Homo sapiens: one gene and its partner. The protein of the gene in region 1 purifies or fractionates together with the protein of each later gene. This does not show direct contact. Each region holds a gene or a part of one and is shown in the gene's direction. Other genes may lie near its edges.

Region 1 (7,901 bases):
TCTAACTAGCCAACATTAAAGAAACCATATTTCCAGCAAAGGTAAAATCTGTTAGTAAGTAGGATAGCATGAATTCAGACCTTAGCGTTTGTGCAATTTGTGTGTGATGGCAAAGTTAATGCCCTATTCCAAAGTGATGGATTTTAATCATGAAATCTGTAATAATTCAAATGTCTTAATTACTTTGGTTCTTAAATTGTCCATATATGGTTTAGACCAGAGTTGAACAAACTAGCCCATGGACCAAATCTGTTTTTGTATGCATGAGCTAAGAATTGTTTTTACATTTTTAAATGGTTAAGAGGCTGGGTGCAGTGGCTCACGCCTGTAATCCCAGCACTTTGGGAGGCTGAGGTGGGCTGATTACTTGAACCAAGGAGATCGAGACCAGCCTGGGCAACTTGGCGAAACCTCATCTCTACAAAAAAAAAAAAAAAAAAGAAAAAAGACAAAAAATTAGCCAGGCATGGCGGTGCATGCCTGTAGTCCCAACCACTTGGGAGGCTGAAGCAGGAGGATCATCTGAGCCGGCAGGTTGAGGCTGCAGTGAGATGAGATTGTACCACTGCATTCCAGCCTTGGTGATAGAGTGAGACTTTGTCTAAAAACATAAAATAAGATAAAATGGTTAAGAAATCAAAGGAAAAGAATATTTCATTACGTGTGAAATTACATGAAATTCATATGTTTGCATCTAAAAATAAAGTTTTGTTGGAACACAGCTACGTTCATGTGTTTTTGGATTGTCTTTCGGTGCTTTTGCTTTAAAACGGCAATTGAGTAACTGGGACAGAGATTGGCCCACAAAACCCAAAATATTTACCATCTGGCTCTTCATAGAACGTGTTTGCCAACCTCAGGTCTGGAACAGCACTGTCCAGTGTGGCAGCCAGTAGTCACATGTAGCAATTTAACTTTAAAATAACTTGCAGTGAAAGGATATAAAGCAAAATCATAAAAGGAAAGGGAGCATGGGGTGAAGTCCGGCGGAAACCAGGTCCCAAGAGTTCTCTTCCCAGGGAGTGTAAATTTCTCCAACAGCTAGTCATAACAATGTGTGAAGTTGTATCTACCCGGGGAACTCATTAGAGACTCAGTGCCCACAGTTTTTATTGGGGGCTGGTCACTTATTCACCCTCTGCCTAACAGGTACCAAAATTCCAGACTCCTAGAATGAAAGCAGATGTTTGGCATGAACTGTATTTGTACAAACAGTTTGGGCACAGTGAGCCAATTACGCATATCAATGGGGGGAACTGTTTACCAGTCAAGTACCAAGACCAAATTGATCACAGGGTTGGTCACTCAAAGACCAACTTCCATTATCATAAAAAATTCTGTTAGACAGTGCTGGTGTAAAGAACAGTGATTCATAGCTGTTTTTAAGTTATAGCCCCCTTTGAGATTATGAGTTTTGGATTTTTCACTCTCGGTTTTAGGCATATATATATATAGATGTAATATTTTCATATAGTTTAAGGAGTTCACTAGTTTAGAAGAAAGAACATAAGTGTTTAAAATATGTGCTTTTTAATTTTTGCCCCAGCCACCGTATGATTACGGTCAAATATGTTTTGTATTTTGGTTTAGATGGTATACTAGAGCTTAAAAGCTTGAGATCTGGTATCAGACAGATTTTATTAGAATCTGTAACCAACCATTCAACTAGTTGTTTGGCCTTGAGCAAATTACTTAACATCTCTAAGCTTCAGTTTCCTTATCTTTAAAAGGGTGGTAATAACATTATCTACCTTATAGAAATATGATAAAAAGTATAATAAATGAGATAATGCACATAAGGCGCTTAGCATGATGCACAGAATTTAGTCATTACTCAGTAGTGGTTCTTACTTGTAACTTGTTTCTTACCTCTCCTTCATTAACTTTTTCCCCTTCTCTTACTTCAGAAGTAATTTTGAGTCACTTTTACTGTGTTGTCTTAGTTGATGCTGTTGATGAACAGCTGGCTATTTGGAACCTAAGCCTAGATGGTTCATGAATTATATTGTTTAATATTTTGTGATGTTTTCTTAAATTTAAAATGCTCCTTTAATTTTTCCACTATGTATACAGTACAGCTTTTAAAAATGGAACAGTCTTTTTTAAAGGTCTTAGTTATGCAATATAATTCCTAGATGGTTTTACTGCTATTCATTTATCTAATGAACTTTAGACAAAATCTTTTACTTTTGTTGATGTTAACAAGGTCTTTTTCTTCCTATAGCTGTGCCTTTGGCTGCAACAAGTATGTTGATTACTCAAGGATTAATTAGTAAAGGTAAATATTTAAAATTTGAATTTATTTAGCATTTTGGATACCATGTTTGTTTTGTGGTATTTTCCAGGTCTTTAGAAAAAGTAAAGATAACAATGTATCATATTAAACACTATGTAGAAATTCATTGATGAATTTAAACGTTTTATCTCTGTGGACCCACTGGCTCAAATATCATGACTTGAGAATTTCTCCTGCACTAATAGCATCATTAACAATCTGCAAGAGCAAGAAGGTAACTAAACACCAGTATTAGCAGGGCAAACCTGGTCTAGGTGGGCCAATAGCAACATTATTGCCTAGGAGCTTGTTAGAATGCACATTCATGGGGACCAGGAGTCTGTGTTTTAACAAATTCGAAGTGATTCTTATATAATGATTTAAAGATCAGTAGCTCTCTAAACCAGCTTTGTCTGATCACCTGGGGCGGATGAGTGGCGGTGAGTTAGCATTATTTAAAAAATCAGAATCTCAGGGGTCTGGCAGGTGATCTATTTTTAACGAGCCACCGAGGAGACTTTCTTGTCCTAAAGTCTATTGGCTCAAATAGTACAGTAGTGGAATTGAGTTTAGATTGAGTATTAAATGTCTTGAGTCCTGCATTTAAAATGTAGTGGAGTAAGCAGTAGAGTTGCTTAATTCCTTTACTTCATGAACTATCTATCTGGTAATGGGAAGGTGTCCCAGAAAAGGATGGTGACCTTAGGATGGCCTGGAGGCCTATTGTTTTAATTAACTGGCTCCTTCAAAAATGTGACTTAATGATTGGAAGATTTAGCCTTTTCACATTAGGATATGATGTATGGTACTTAGTTTTGACACAATTAGTTGATAAAAGTAGTTTTGGAGGCAAATGAGAGGATTTTTGGGGTAAAAATTTATTTAAGGAACTTCTGAAGAACTTCATTACAATACAGTACCATGACAAAAATCTTAAACATAGAAGCGAGTCAAGATGTATGCACTTATATGTCCTTAAGACTAAGCTGTTTTATAGACTGAGATTGGTTCTGTATTGTGAAACAACAACAACAACAACAACAAAACAAAAAAAACCCCACTTGAATTACATTCTTTGTAGGAAAAACTGGCACAGGGATGAAATTACAGTGTTTATTATTGTTCTGCTTCTTTTATCTATTTTAATCCAGTGTGTCATTTAATAATGATTGGAGCTAGGTATGCAGAAGGTTACACAAAAGAATTTAATAGCTGCTAGTAGTTCACTGGAGGAAACAAATGGATGTGAACATATGTTGAAGCAAATAGAAAATTTAATTACATACTTAATAAGCTACTAAATTGTATAGTAGAGACTCTAAGAGTTGTAGGTGTTCAAAGAAGAAAGATCTTTGTAGGGCTGTTGTAATCAAGGAAAGTTTCTTGAAAGAAGTGGGTTTTGAAGGATGGGCAGGATTTAGATTAAATGAGAAGAAAGAACATACCAGGAAGGAGGGACCTGATGATGAAGACAAATAGGCATAACTATTGGGAGAGGCAATCAGGACTGAACTGAAGAGACAAAATCATGCAGGGAGGAGTGAAAAATCCATTAAATAGCTGAAGTAGAGCCAGGAGAAATTATAATTTGGATTAGGTTATGAAGAGGAGGAAGTTTTTTAGAGATTTTGGGTTTAGGTGCAGTTGAAGACTTTGGGCTACTTGAGGGTACGGTAGAAGTGATATTGGGAGGCCGAGTCGGGTGCATCACAAGGTTAGGAAATCGAGACCGTCCTGGCCAACATGATAAAACCCCATCTCTACTAAAAATACAAAAAAATTAGCCGGGCGTGGTCGTGCGTGCCTGTAGTCCCAGCTACTCAGGAGACTGAGGCAGGAGAATCGCTTGAACCCAGGTGGCGGAGGCTGCAGTGAGCTGAGATGGCGCCACTGCACTCTAGCCTGGGCAACAGAGCGAGACTCTGTCTCAAAAAAAAGGTAAAAATTGAGAGAGACTTTAAGAAAAGAATTTGGAATCCACCAAGACATTTTGCATTTAATCAAAATCCCTGACATTTTGTACAGTGGTCCTTTTGTGTCTGTGTGGATTGGTTCCAGGACCCTCCAGAGGATACCAAAATCCACAAAAGCTTAAGTCTCTGATATAAAACGGCCTAGTAAAGTTTACGTGCATATCTGCCTGTATACTGTAAATCATCTCTAGATTACTTATAATACCTAAGACTATGTAAACACTATGTAAATAGTTGTTATACTGTATTGTTTAGGGAATAATGACAAGAAACAAGTCTGTACATGTTTAGTATAGATGCAGTTTTTTTTTTCCTAAATATTTTCTATCCGCAGTTGGTTGCAGAACATGTACATATGGAGGGCTGCCTGTATCCCCTTTCATCCACAGTGTGTCATACTCCACGTGGTCTTAGATGTTCCTTCTGTTTCTTCCTGATCTGCCAAAACCATTTAAACATGCTCAGGTCTCCTCTAACTTGAGAACATTAAAAAGAAAAAAAAATCCTCCCTCATTTGTTTTTCCAGCTACTCCCAACTGCCTCATATTTGAAGCCAGAGGCAGACTTCATGAATGAGCCCTTCACTTTTTACTTCGTTTAACCCATTGCAGTCAGTGTGAGACTATCCATATGTTCTACCATTTATTGGAACTTTTCAAAAGTTCAAAAACAAACTTTTCAAAAACAACCTGTTTGTTGCTTAAATATAATGGACAGTTTTTGTTCTTGACCAACGTTACATAACTTTAACCAGTTTTTCTTGAAATAGTCTATTCTCTTGGCTTCCATGATGGCATATTCCTAAGATTTTTCTCCTACCTCAGGCGATTCCTCTGTTTCATGTTTTTTGAGTGTCTGATATGTACTATACATTGTTATATAGCACTAAACAACAAAAATTCATTAACTCTTGGTGCTTACATTCTTGTATGGGTTTTTTTGTCTAGTTGTTTGGGAAATGTTGGTGTTACTATATTTTGGATATAATATATAATATGTATGGCCCTTCTATAGGCTCCTCAAACAGAACTCAACCATTTTCCACAAAACCAATTCCTCCTTTCCCTTCATGACTGAGTGGTGTTAGTACTATCCAGGAAACTGGGACATTATCCTTCACATCTATCCCTTATCTGCCTTGTCCAATTAATGTCTTTTAGCTCTTAAATGTCTTTATTAACTATCTACCTCCATCTGTACTGCCAGCATAATTAATGCAACCATATGTCACAAAGAGTATTGCGTTAACCTTCAACAAATCTGTTTGTTTCCATTCTTGCTACTTCTCCTTAGGAAAATAAGCTATTTCTAGCACCTGACAGAGGACATACATAGTGCACATAGTACTCAAATATTTGAGGGGATGAATAGCAACCATGACACTATTATCTTTGTCTTAACTCTCTCTCTAGACTGTAAATTCCATGAGAGTAAAGAGTGTGTCCTGTTTCCTGTTAATATCCAGTATGTAGTACCTTTATGTTGTAAGTGGTCTATAACTAGTTGGTGACAGTATGAAGGAACAACTTTTTAATGTAAAAATAGAGATGTTCTTACCATCTTCCTTTTTCTATTGTCATCCCAGTTCTTATAAATGAAGGAACTGAGGCTAAAGGCACAGATTAGTTGTCTGTTTTTGTACTTTAATTACATGAAATCATACACTGAAATATTCTTTTATGTAAGTTCTTTCAACATGGTGAGATTCATCCAGTAGCATGCTGGAACTGGTTTGTACTGGCTCCTGAGAATTGGTTGTTAAATTTTCGGGAACTTTGGCAAGCTGGTTTTTAAAGTGTTGGTAGTTGGCCGGGTACGGTGGCTCATGCCGGTAATCCCAGCACTTTGGGAGGCTGAGGCAGGCGGATCATGAGGTCAGGTGATTGAGACCATCCTGGCCAATATGGTGAAACCCTGTCTCTACTAAAAATACAAAAAATTAACTGGGCATGGTGGTGTGCACCTGTAGTCCCAGCTACTTGGGAGGCTGAGGCAGGAGAATTGCTTGAACCCAGGAGGCGAAGGTTGCAGTGAGCTGAGATGGCGCCACTGCACTCCAGCCTGGGGACAGAGCGAGACTCGTCTCAAAAAAAAAAAAAAAAGAATTGGTAGCTTTACACCATGGAAACTGACAAACATTAAAATTAGAGCTTTTTATAGGGAGTGCTGGTTTACCAGCACATCATTGCACTTAACCACATTGTTGCATGTAGTTGCCCTATAGTTTTCCTCTGTGTGAATACACCAGTTTATCTATCTGAACTGTGCATTGATAATTGGTAGTTTTCAATTTTCACTGTTACAATTAGTTTTGCCAAGAATATGGTGCCTTTTTGATAGACATTTTGCTGGGTCATAGATTTTGTATATATTTATTTAGCTTTAGTAGATATTACCAAACTATTTAGACCAATGTATACTCCTACATTCTCACCAACACTAGCTATTTTTATGTCTTTTATGTTTTAGCCATTGTGGTAAATAAACACTAATATTGATTGCATTGTGGCTTGAATTTGTATTTCCCTGTAACCAATGAAGTTGAAGACCTTTCCATTTGTTTATACTTCATTTCAGCATATCTTTTTCTGTGAAGTATCTGTTTAAGTCTGTTAACCATTTTTCCATTGTATTGTCTTTTTTCCTATTGGTTTTGTGAGACTTCTCTGTATACTTTGGAATTGAGTCTTTTGTCAGATATAGATATGGTGATTATTTTTTCCCCACTCTGTTTAACTGTAGTTTTCAGTGTTAATAGAGTCCAATTTATCAGGTTTCTTCTTTCTAATAGGTGCTTTTTGTTGACTCTTTAAGATCTTCGTCTACTCTAAGGACACAAAGATGGTCTCATGCTTTCTTCTGTAAAATTTTTTAAAAAAATCTTTCATATTTAAATTTTTAAGCCATCTGGATTATTGTTCGATGTAGGATCAAGGTACATTTTCCCCTGTTAATGGATATTAATTGACCCAGCACTATATTTGAAAGGACTATGCTGCAGTGTTGTCTTTGTCATAAATCAAGTGTGCAGGTGTGGATCTGTTTCTGGACTCTTAGTTTTGGTCAGTTTGCCTATTCTTGTACTTAATACCAGACTGTCTTAATTACTACAGCTTTATCATGTAGATTTTGCTATCTGGTGGTAGTCAGTTCTATAATACGATTCTTCAGTGTTGCCTTGGCCCTTTGTGTTCCACATGACTCTTAGAATAAGCTTTTCAATTTTTGTAAAACTTTGATTTTAATTGGGATTGCATTGTATTTATAGGTGAAGTTATGGAGAATTGCCATCTTTAGAATATTGGGTCTTTCAATTCTCAGTAAGTTTTATAACTTGTCAGTGTAGAGATCTTTCATATCTTTCATTAGATTTGTTCCTGGGTTTTGAGCGTTTTTTTTTTTGGTGCTATAATTAATTCTGTCTTCTAAAAAATGTTTGTTTTTTTGTTTGTTGTTGGTATAAACAGTTTTTCATACACACACACATATATATTTGGTCTATTGACCTTACATCAAGTGATCTTTCTAAATTTACCTGTTCTAATACTTTGTAGAGTCTTTTGGATTTTCGTCATATTTCTCTTGATACTGAATTCATTTGGTTTTCCCTATTAAACAGTCTAGGGTTCTGTAGGATCATGGAAGGAGCTAAT
Region 2 (7,951 bases), about 100 Mb from region 1:
AGCCTCCACCTCCCGGACTCAAGCGATCCTTCCGCCTCAGACCTCCAAATAGCTGGGACCACAGGCATGCACAGGGACCATACCTGGCTAATTTTTGTATTTTTTGTAGAGACGGGTTTTCACCATGTTGCCCAAGCTGGTCTCAAACTCCTGAGCTCAAGCAATCTGCCCACCTTGGTCTCCCAGAATGCTGGGATTACAGGCATGAGCCACCACCACGTCTGGCTTCCCCCTACTTGTTTTTGATATGGGGTCTTGATTGGTCACCCACGCTGCAGTGCAGTGGCAACATGACAGCTCACTGCAGCCTCGAACTCCTCGGCTCAAGTGATCCTCCCACATCAGCCTCCCCAGTAGCTGGGACTACAGATGTGTTCCACCATGCCTGGCTAATTTTTAAAACTTTTTGTAGACAGGAGGTCTTGCCATGATGGCCAGGCTGGTCTCAAGCAATCCTCCCCTCTTGGCCTCCCAAAGTGCTTGGATTACAGGCATGAGCCACTGTGCCCAGCCAAGATACCCATTCATACCAGGATTTTCCTCCCTGTCACTGCTAATAGCTGTGTAGGCGCAGACAAGGGCTTTCAGGTGAGAAAAATTAAAGCAAGTAACTTTAGAGTTTCGACTCAATCCAAATAATATGAATACCTGTAATGTGTAAAGTATTGTGCTATAAAGGAGCTTAAGATTTGAGGCAGATAGTTCATCTGGAATCATTCCAAGATTCTATGTCGTACACCTAAATAATAATCCACAATGATTGCATTTTATTTATTTTTTGAGATGGAGTTGTGCTCTTGTTGCCCAGGCTGGAGTGGCCAATCTCGGCTCACTGCAACCTCTGCCTCCTGGGTTCAAGCGATTTTCCTGCCTCAGCCTCCTGAGTAGCTGGGATTACAGGCATGCGCCACGTAATTTTTAGTAGAGATTGGTCAAGCTGGTCTTGAACGCCCAATCTCAGGTCATCCACCCGCCTCTGCTTCCCAAAGTGCTGGGATTACAGGCATGAGCCACCGCACCCGGGCCTAGTGATTGCATTTTAACTGGCTTGCCTAGAAGTGAAGAGTTTCGCCTTCTACCTTCCTTATGCTTCTTTCTGCAGTGAACCTCCAATTTTTGCCAACTATTTTGTTTTAACCATGGGCAAAGAGGTTGAAAAATTTTTATAAATAGTTGACAATTTGTGCATATATATATATATATATATATATATATATGTATTTTTTTTTAGATGGAGTTTCTGCTCTTACTGCCCGGGCTGGAGGGCAAAGGTGTGGTCGTGGCTCATTGCAACCTCTGCCTCCCGGGTTCAAGCGATTCTTCTGCCTCAGCCTCCAAGTAGCTGGGATTACAGGCACCCACCACAACGCCTGGCTATTTTTTTGTATTTTTAGTAGAGATGGGGTTTCACCATGTTGGCCAGGCTGGTCTCAAACTCCTGACCTCAGGTGATCTGCCTGCCTCAGCCTCCCAAAGTGCTGTGATTACAGGCAGGAGCCACTGTACCCGGCATTTAGAAATATTTGGTTAATTGTCTGTGTTCATTGTTTCATCAGTAGAACAGCATTAACAGTGAGCTTGCAAATTTATGAGCTACAAACCTTAGCCCTAGATCATTTAGACTGTGATCACTCTGTGTTGGGGGCATTTTCATTATTATCATCTGCTTCTTAATGGAAGACATTTATTCATTTAACAAATACTTAATTAGCACTTATATGACAGATATATTAACACACCATTTGCCCCATCTGAGGAGACAAACTCCGATGAGAGGCCTTTTAGGATTAATGCCTCACTTTAGAAATACGGATGTGTGAAAGGTCAAGTGAAAGTTGTGTCTCTTCTGCAGGCACACCCTACTCCCCCTTATTCCAGAGTTATTCATTAATGATGTGAAACAAACTTGAGGTGTTTAGTTTTTCAGAGATTTCAGAAATGGGAAGCCACTGATGTCGCCTTTTACTTTGGAAATGTGTTGGCAATTCGGATCATCAGAAAGATGTCTGCTTCATCTCTGGAATATCTAAGTCTACTTACAGAAAACAAATCTTTAACAAACATTTGCAACCACATGAGATTTGGTGCAGTTGAATTCATTTTAGTATTTTTAAAACGTGTAACACTTTTCTAAAGAAAATATCCCCTTGCTTGTTCTTCTGCTTCTTTTTTAAAAAAATAGAGACCTTGGTCGGGTACGGTGGCTCACACCTGTAATCTCAGCACTTCGGGAGGCTGAGACGGGCAGATCACCTAAGGTCAGGAGTTTGAGACCAGCCTGGCCAACATGGTGAAACCCCACCTCTACCAAAAATACAAAAATTAGGCGGGCTTGTAATAAAAATAAAAAAAATTAGCGCATGCCTGTAATCCCAGCTACTTGGGAGGCTGAGGCAGGAGAATCGCTGGAGCCCGGGAGGCAGAGGTTAAGGTGAGCCGAGATTGCGCCATTGCACTCCAGCCTGGGCAACAAGAGCGAAACTCCGTTTAAAAAAAAAAAAAAAAAAAGAGCACGGGTCTTGCTGTTGCCTAGGCTAGTCTCAAGTGATCCTCCTGCACTAGCCTCCTAAAGTGTTGGGATGACAGGTGTGAGCTACTACACCCAGCCCTCCCTTGCTTTTTGCGTCTGTTACCTTTTTCTTCCCAAATTTCCATGTGAGAGTTAAAATTGTCTTTTTTTTTTTTTTTTTTTGAGACAGAATCTCGCTCTTCCTCTGTCACCCAGGCTGGAGTGCAGTGGCAATTCTCCTGCCTCAGCCTCCCGAGTAGCTGGGATTACAGGCGCCTACCACCATGCCTGGCTAATTTTTGTATTTTTAGTAGAGACGGGGGTTTCACCATATTGGTCAGGCTGGTCTTGAACTCCTGACCTCAGGCAATCCATCTGCTTGGGCCTCCCAAAGTGCTGGGATTACAGGCGTGAGCCACCGCGCCCGGCTTCTGTCCACTTCTCAAGGCCATCTCAAATAACTTTTTCTTCAGGAAACTATTTCTCAAACCACTATAATTTTTTCCTAAGTTCTCTAGAATTCTTCCTTTGTTTAATCCCACTTTTTGCTTCACTTTCATTTTAGGAGCTAGGCGTATTTTTAAAAAGGCCCTTTGACCTCAAAGGATACACGTGGGTGAAAAACCACCTTCCTCTAAATTTATTTTTCACTCACTAGGAAGAATGGTTTACTGTTAATAGCGGGTGGAAAGAAGGGACACTGAGTATGAGGACCTATCTGTACTACCTAATATAATTTATCTTTTGATCTACTCTGAGAATGACGCGAGCCTAATCTTCACATTGGAAAATCACGAGAGGAAAAAACCCTTCGGAGGTCTACAGGCACAAGGAACCCTGTCTCCACGCTGTTTATAGCAGCTGTCTCAGGAATCCTCTGCCTAGAATGAATGTGGGAGAGGTTTCGTGGCGCGGCAGCTGCAAAGCAAGGAATCTTTCCCATTCCTCGTCGACTCGGTCCCCTCCCCTCCCCTCCCGAATGGCGGCAGCTGCCGAGGTATCCCAGTGGAAATCTCCAAGTCTCCGCCGAGAGCGGCGGGCGGGCAACAGCTGAAAGCAGCCAGGGGTGGGGACTCCTCGCTCCCATTGGGCAGGGACAGCAGCCTCACTGGCTCCAGCGCCGTCACCTCTCTGGCTCGTAGAGGTGCCTCAGGTGTTCTTCTCCAAGTCCAATGAGACACCTAGGCAACGCAGCGCGTGTTCCCTCCGCGCCAAGAGACCCTACGGTAACTTAACAACAGCAGGAGCGCCAAAATCCCCGCCTCAGGACTTGGCAGAAGCACCTCCCGAGGTCCGAGAGTGGGAGAGGGGAAAGTGTAGGCCCTCGGACGGAAGGGTCTCTCCTCGCCGGGCCGGGTACACACCTGGTGCTACCAGAGCAGCGCGCCTAGTGCAGCCGGAAGCCCCAGCCCAGCACTCCGGCTGGCTCGGGGCCCCCTTGGCTGTCCGCGCGTCGTCACCGCGCCCCCGCCGCGCGGCTGCCTCCGCCTTCGCGCCCTCCCGCCCCGCGCACTCGCGCTCGCGCACGCGCACGCCGCGCCCGGCAGCACTCGGCGCTGTCATGGCGGCCGGGAGCAGCTTCAGTGGGCACACGACAGCCGCGCGACCCGTGGCGGGGCGAGCTGTGGCAGTAGCATCCTCACCACTCGCAGCAGCCTCAGCCGCGGCGCCCGTAGCGCCAGCAGCGGCTGCTTTTGCAAAGGCTGAGCGCAGGGGCGGGGCGGGCCAGGAAGCCATGGAGTTCTGTGCAGCCGCGGACTCCCGGGGAGCGGACTAGGGAAACTTGGAGGCTGCGACCAGGTGCACTGACCTCTCTGTCCTCCCTTCTCTCCCTGCGGTGGCCGCTGGGTTTCTCTGGCCGCTCCCCTCCCTTCCTGCCACCACACACACCTCCCCACCCCTTCCCGTCGAATCTCAGGTGCCTGAGAGAGGTGCTTCACTCCTCCCACTGGGCCGAGCATTTAGAATAATCACCGCCCCCTTCCCCCGCCTTTTCCTGCCCTGGATCTCCGCCGCCACCTCGGTCTCGCTGCTCCTGGGCGGGGGGTGAGGACGAGTCCGGAGTATCTGGGTGAGGAAGAACTTTCTACCTCTGTGATAGCTTGTGGGCCCCCCTTCTTTCCTCCGATCCCTCCTTTCCCCGCGACAGTTTCTCTTTCTAGTGCACCTGTGAGGAGAGGTTACCCTGCGCCTAGAACCTGCACGAGAGTGGGGGAGGAGTGAGCCTGTTCGGGGGCCTCTTGGACCTGCCTTCACCCAGAACCCAGCTTTTTGAGCCCGGGAGAAGCGGGTGGCTAGTAGTGGGGTGCCTTTAGTAACTTACTTGACCGACAATAACTATTTCCCTCTTGTCCCCTCAAAACCCTAAAACAAAACCTAGCCTATTTAACATATATTTAATCTTCCAATAGGGTTTGGCGTTGTTGTCAGCCTCGGGGAGAGAGATTGGACAAATATTCTCCAAGAGGAGGAGGGCGACGCCAAGGACTTTCCACATCAACTGCTTTGGGGTATCTCCACAAGTTGGAAGAGGGACCCTTTCGTTTTGCATTGCGTGTGTTGTGCTCATTACCAGTGCAGCGACTGCCGTCCCAGGGTGACTCTGAGTTGTCCTTTATCGTGAGCTAGCAATGGCTAGCGAAGACAATCGTGTCCCTTCCCCGCCACCAACAGGTGATGACGGGGGAGGTGGAGGGAGAGAAGAAACCCCTACTGAAGGGGGTGCATTGTCTCTGAAACCAGGGCTCCCCATCAGGGGCATCAGAATGAAATTTGCCGTGTTGACCGGTTTGGTTGAAGTTGGAGAAGTATCCAATAGGGATATTGTAGAAACTGTCTTTAACCTGGTAAGTCCATGAATATTTTATAAGCATATACTCTTTTCAGTGGGTTGGGGAACAAGATCTTAAAGCTGGAGCCATGTGGTTTACTCACACTGATGGTGACTTTTTTCGTGTATAGGGACACAAAATTCTACTCACCTAAATGAAACAATTTCATCTGTTTTTTAGATTGAAGGGAATTGTGCAAACTTAGATGATCCAGGTTTTGTGAAAGTGAACACATCACTTTTGTGCTAAGGAAATAATTGTTGCTATGGAAGTATTGGGGGGAGGTTCTAGCGGAGGAGTTATCTCTAATTTTTTTTTTCTTGGCTTGTATGCCTAAGTCTGCGTTTCCCTTTACCACTTTAAATAATTTCTTGTGACCTTTTTTTGGACTTGAGAATTAATGTCTTTGATTCTGTCGAAGTTATGTTTTGCTACAATAAGTTTAAAAATTTGTTTGTAGTGCTGATGCAAGATTAATTTGCTGCAAAGTTAGTATTTTTAATTTTGACTAGTTTTATTTTTAGACATAACTAACAAAAGTTAAATTGGTGATGAATTTAGGATTGCATTTAAAGTAATCTTGTGAAAATTGAATGGCAATATGAAAAAAGGAATTGAAGCAGATACAGTATAATTTTTATGTGTTTTATAAATTCATGTCTAGCAGGAAAGCATAGTTAGTCATTGGAAGTTGCTGATTATACTAAGATGAGCTATGAATGCTTTTTTTCGGGTGGGGGTGGGAGGGGGATGAGGCCTCTCTATGTTGCCCAGGCTGTTCTCAAACTCCTAAGTTCAAGCTATCCTCCTGCTTCAGTCTTATGAGTAGTTGTGGCTATAGGCATGCATCACTGTATAGGGCTTAAATTGTTTTTAAATTGAGGTATAATTCATATATTATACAATTCTACCTTTAATTAATTCATTAACTTATTTATTTAGAGATGAGGTCTCACTCTGTTGCCTAGGCTAGTTTTGAATTCCTGGGTTCAGGCGATTCTCCCCTCTTGTCTCCTAAGTAGCTGGAACTACTGGCATGCGCCATTGTGCCTGGCTTGGTTATCATTTATAATGGAGACTTTTTAGATTTCTTTATTCCAGCCTCTCTTGCCCATCAACTTAAAGAATCAAAAGGAAATCTGGCCCTAAAATACTTCCCCCTTTTCTACCTACCCACCTGTGTTAGAGGATAACAGGACCAAATATAAACATGCAGTTAATTGTAATAACTGTTTAGCACCTTTCCCTTTGCCTCTTTTCAAGGTTAGGCTTGTTTTATTCTGGGGCAGTTAATTATTTCTTTCACTAGACCTTCTCTAATGGTCTGGTCACCTGCAGTACAACTTCTAGAATAAGAAAGTAGCTAGATGGAATTCTGGCCGGGCGTGGTGACTCACGCCTGTAATCCCAGCACCTCAGGAAGCCGAGGCGGGCACATCACTTGAGGTTAGGAGTTTGAGACTGGCCTAGTCAACATGGTGAAACCCCATCTCTACTAAAAATACAAAAAAATTAGCTGGATGCGCTTGCTTGTACCCAGGAGGTGGAGGTTGCTGTGAGCCGAGATCGTGCCAATGCACTCCAGCCTGGGTGGCAGAGTGAGAGACTGTTTCAAAAAAAAAAAAAAAAAAAAGAAATTCACTTACTTTTGAAGAATGAAAGCTTTGAACAATTGGATATTTCTATGTCAGTTTATTGGGAGTTTATGTATAAACACCTATAGACACACACATGCATATTTTAAAAAACTGCATATTATGGAAATGTTCAAATATATGCAAAAATAGAATAGTATAATGAACTCTGGTATCCGTTGTGCAGCTTCAACAGTTGTCAACATTTTGGGGATCTTGTGTGTGCGCATGTGTGTGGGGCTTTCATATGTAAGTCTGAGGAAGATAAATGGTAAATTGATTGCTTTACCTCAAAATAGACTTGAAACATTTCCTTTCTGATTTTTTGTTCTTTTTTAAAATGTCATATGCCTTCAGTGAGAAACAGAAATTTGTGGTAGTAATATAATCCATAATTACTTATTTGTGTGTGAAGACACAACATCTTTTGGCAGAAGGAGGATTTGAACTCCTGTTCTTTAGAATGTGCTGTGTTGGAGTGGATGACCAAACGTGAGTCATTTGCATTTTTATCATTAAAGAAAATCCAAATTCTATAGCAGCATTTGCTTATACGCTTCCTAGAACTGTAGACCTGGTATAGATTTTAAGGTCATTGGTTAAGTCCTTCAAAGCTGCGTATTTGCAGGATAGTAGGTGCCTGGATAGAAGGAGAGAGAAGAGTCTGTTCAGTTAGTTACCCTCCTCTTCAATATCATTCGCTTGTCAGGTAGGGCAGGAAAAGTTGCTGAGAATATTAGGTAGCAGTTTCTCCCCTTCCATTGTCCCTTAAAATACTTTTCATGCTCTTTCATGGATTATCTGGGGTTTTGGCCACTCTAGAAAATCTTTGGAAGCAGCTGCGCACAGTGGCTCATGCTTGTAATCCCAGAGCTTTGGGAGGTTCACTTGAGGCCAAGAGTTTGAGACCAGCCTGGGCACTATAGTGAGACCCTGTCTCTACAAAAAAAAAAATTAAATAAAAAATTAGCTGGGCA

What was found. Proteins that work in one complex are often made in the same cells at the same time.
Region 2: the proteins of OCIAD1 (region 1) and LRBA purify together in Homo sapiens (co-immunoprecipitation; 2 studies listed by BioGRID and IntAct, with this or other methods). This does not show direct contact.

Annotation. Positions count from the first base shown.
Region 1 is NC_000004.12:48,840,412-48,848,312, forward strand, and holds part of OCIAD1 (OCIA domain-containing protein 1), read left to right. Parts: intron 1-2,224; coding exon 2,225-2,278; intron 2,279-7,901. UniProt on the Homo sapiens protein: Maintains stem cell potency. Increases STAT3 phosphorylation and controls ERK phosphorylation. May act as a scaffold, increasing STAT3 recruitment onto endosomes. Involved in integrin-mediated cancer cell adhesion and colony formation in ovarian cancer.
Region 2 is NC_000004.12:151,011,831-151,019,781, reverse strand, and holds the start of LRBA (lipopolysaccharide-responsive and beige-like anchor protein), read left to right. Parts: upstream 1-4,497; 5' UTR 4,498-4,580; intron 4,581-4,920; 5' UTR 4,921-5,139; coding exon 5,140-5,355; intron 5,356-7,951. UniProt on the Homo sapiens protein: Involved in coupling signal transduction and vesicle trafficking to enable polarized secretion and/or membrane deposition of immune effector molecules. Involved in phagophore growth during mitophagy by regulating ATG9A trafficking to mitochondria.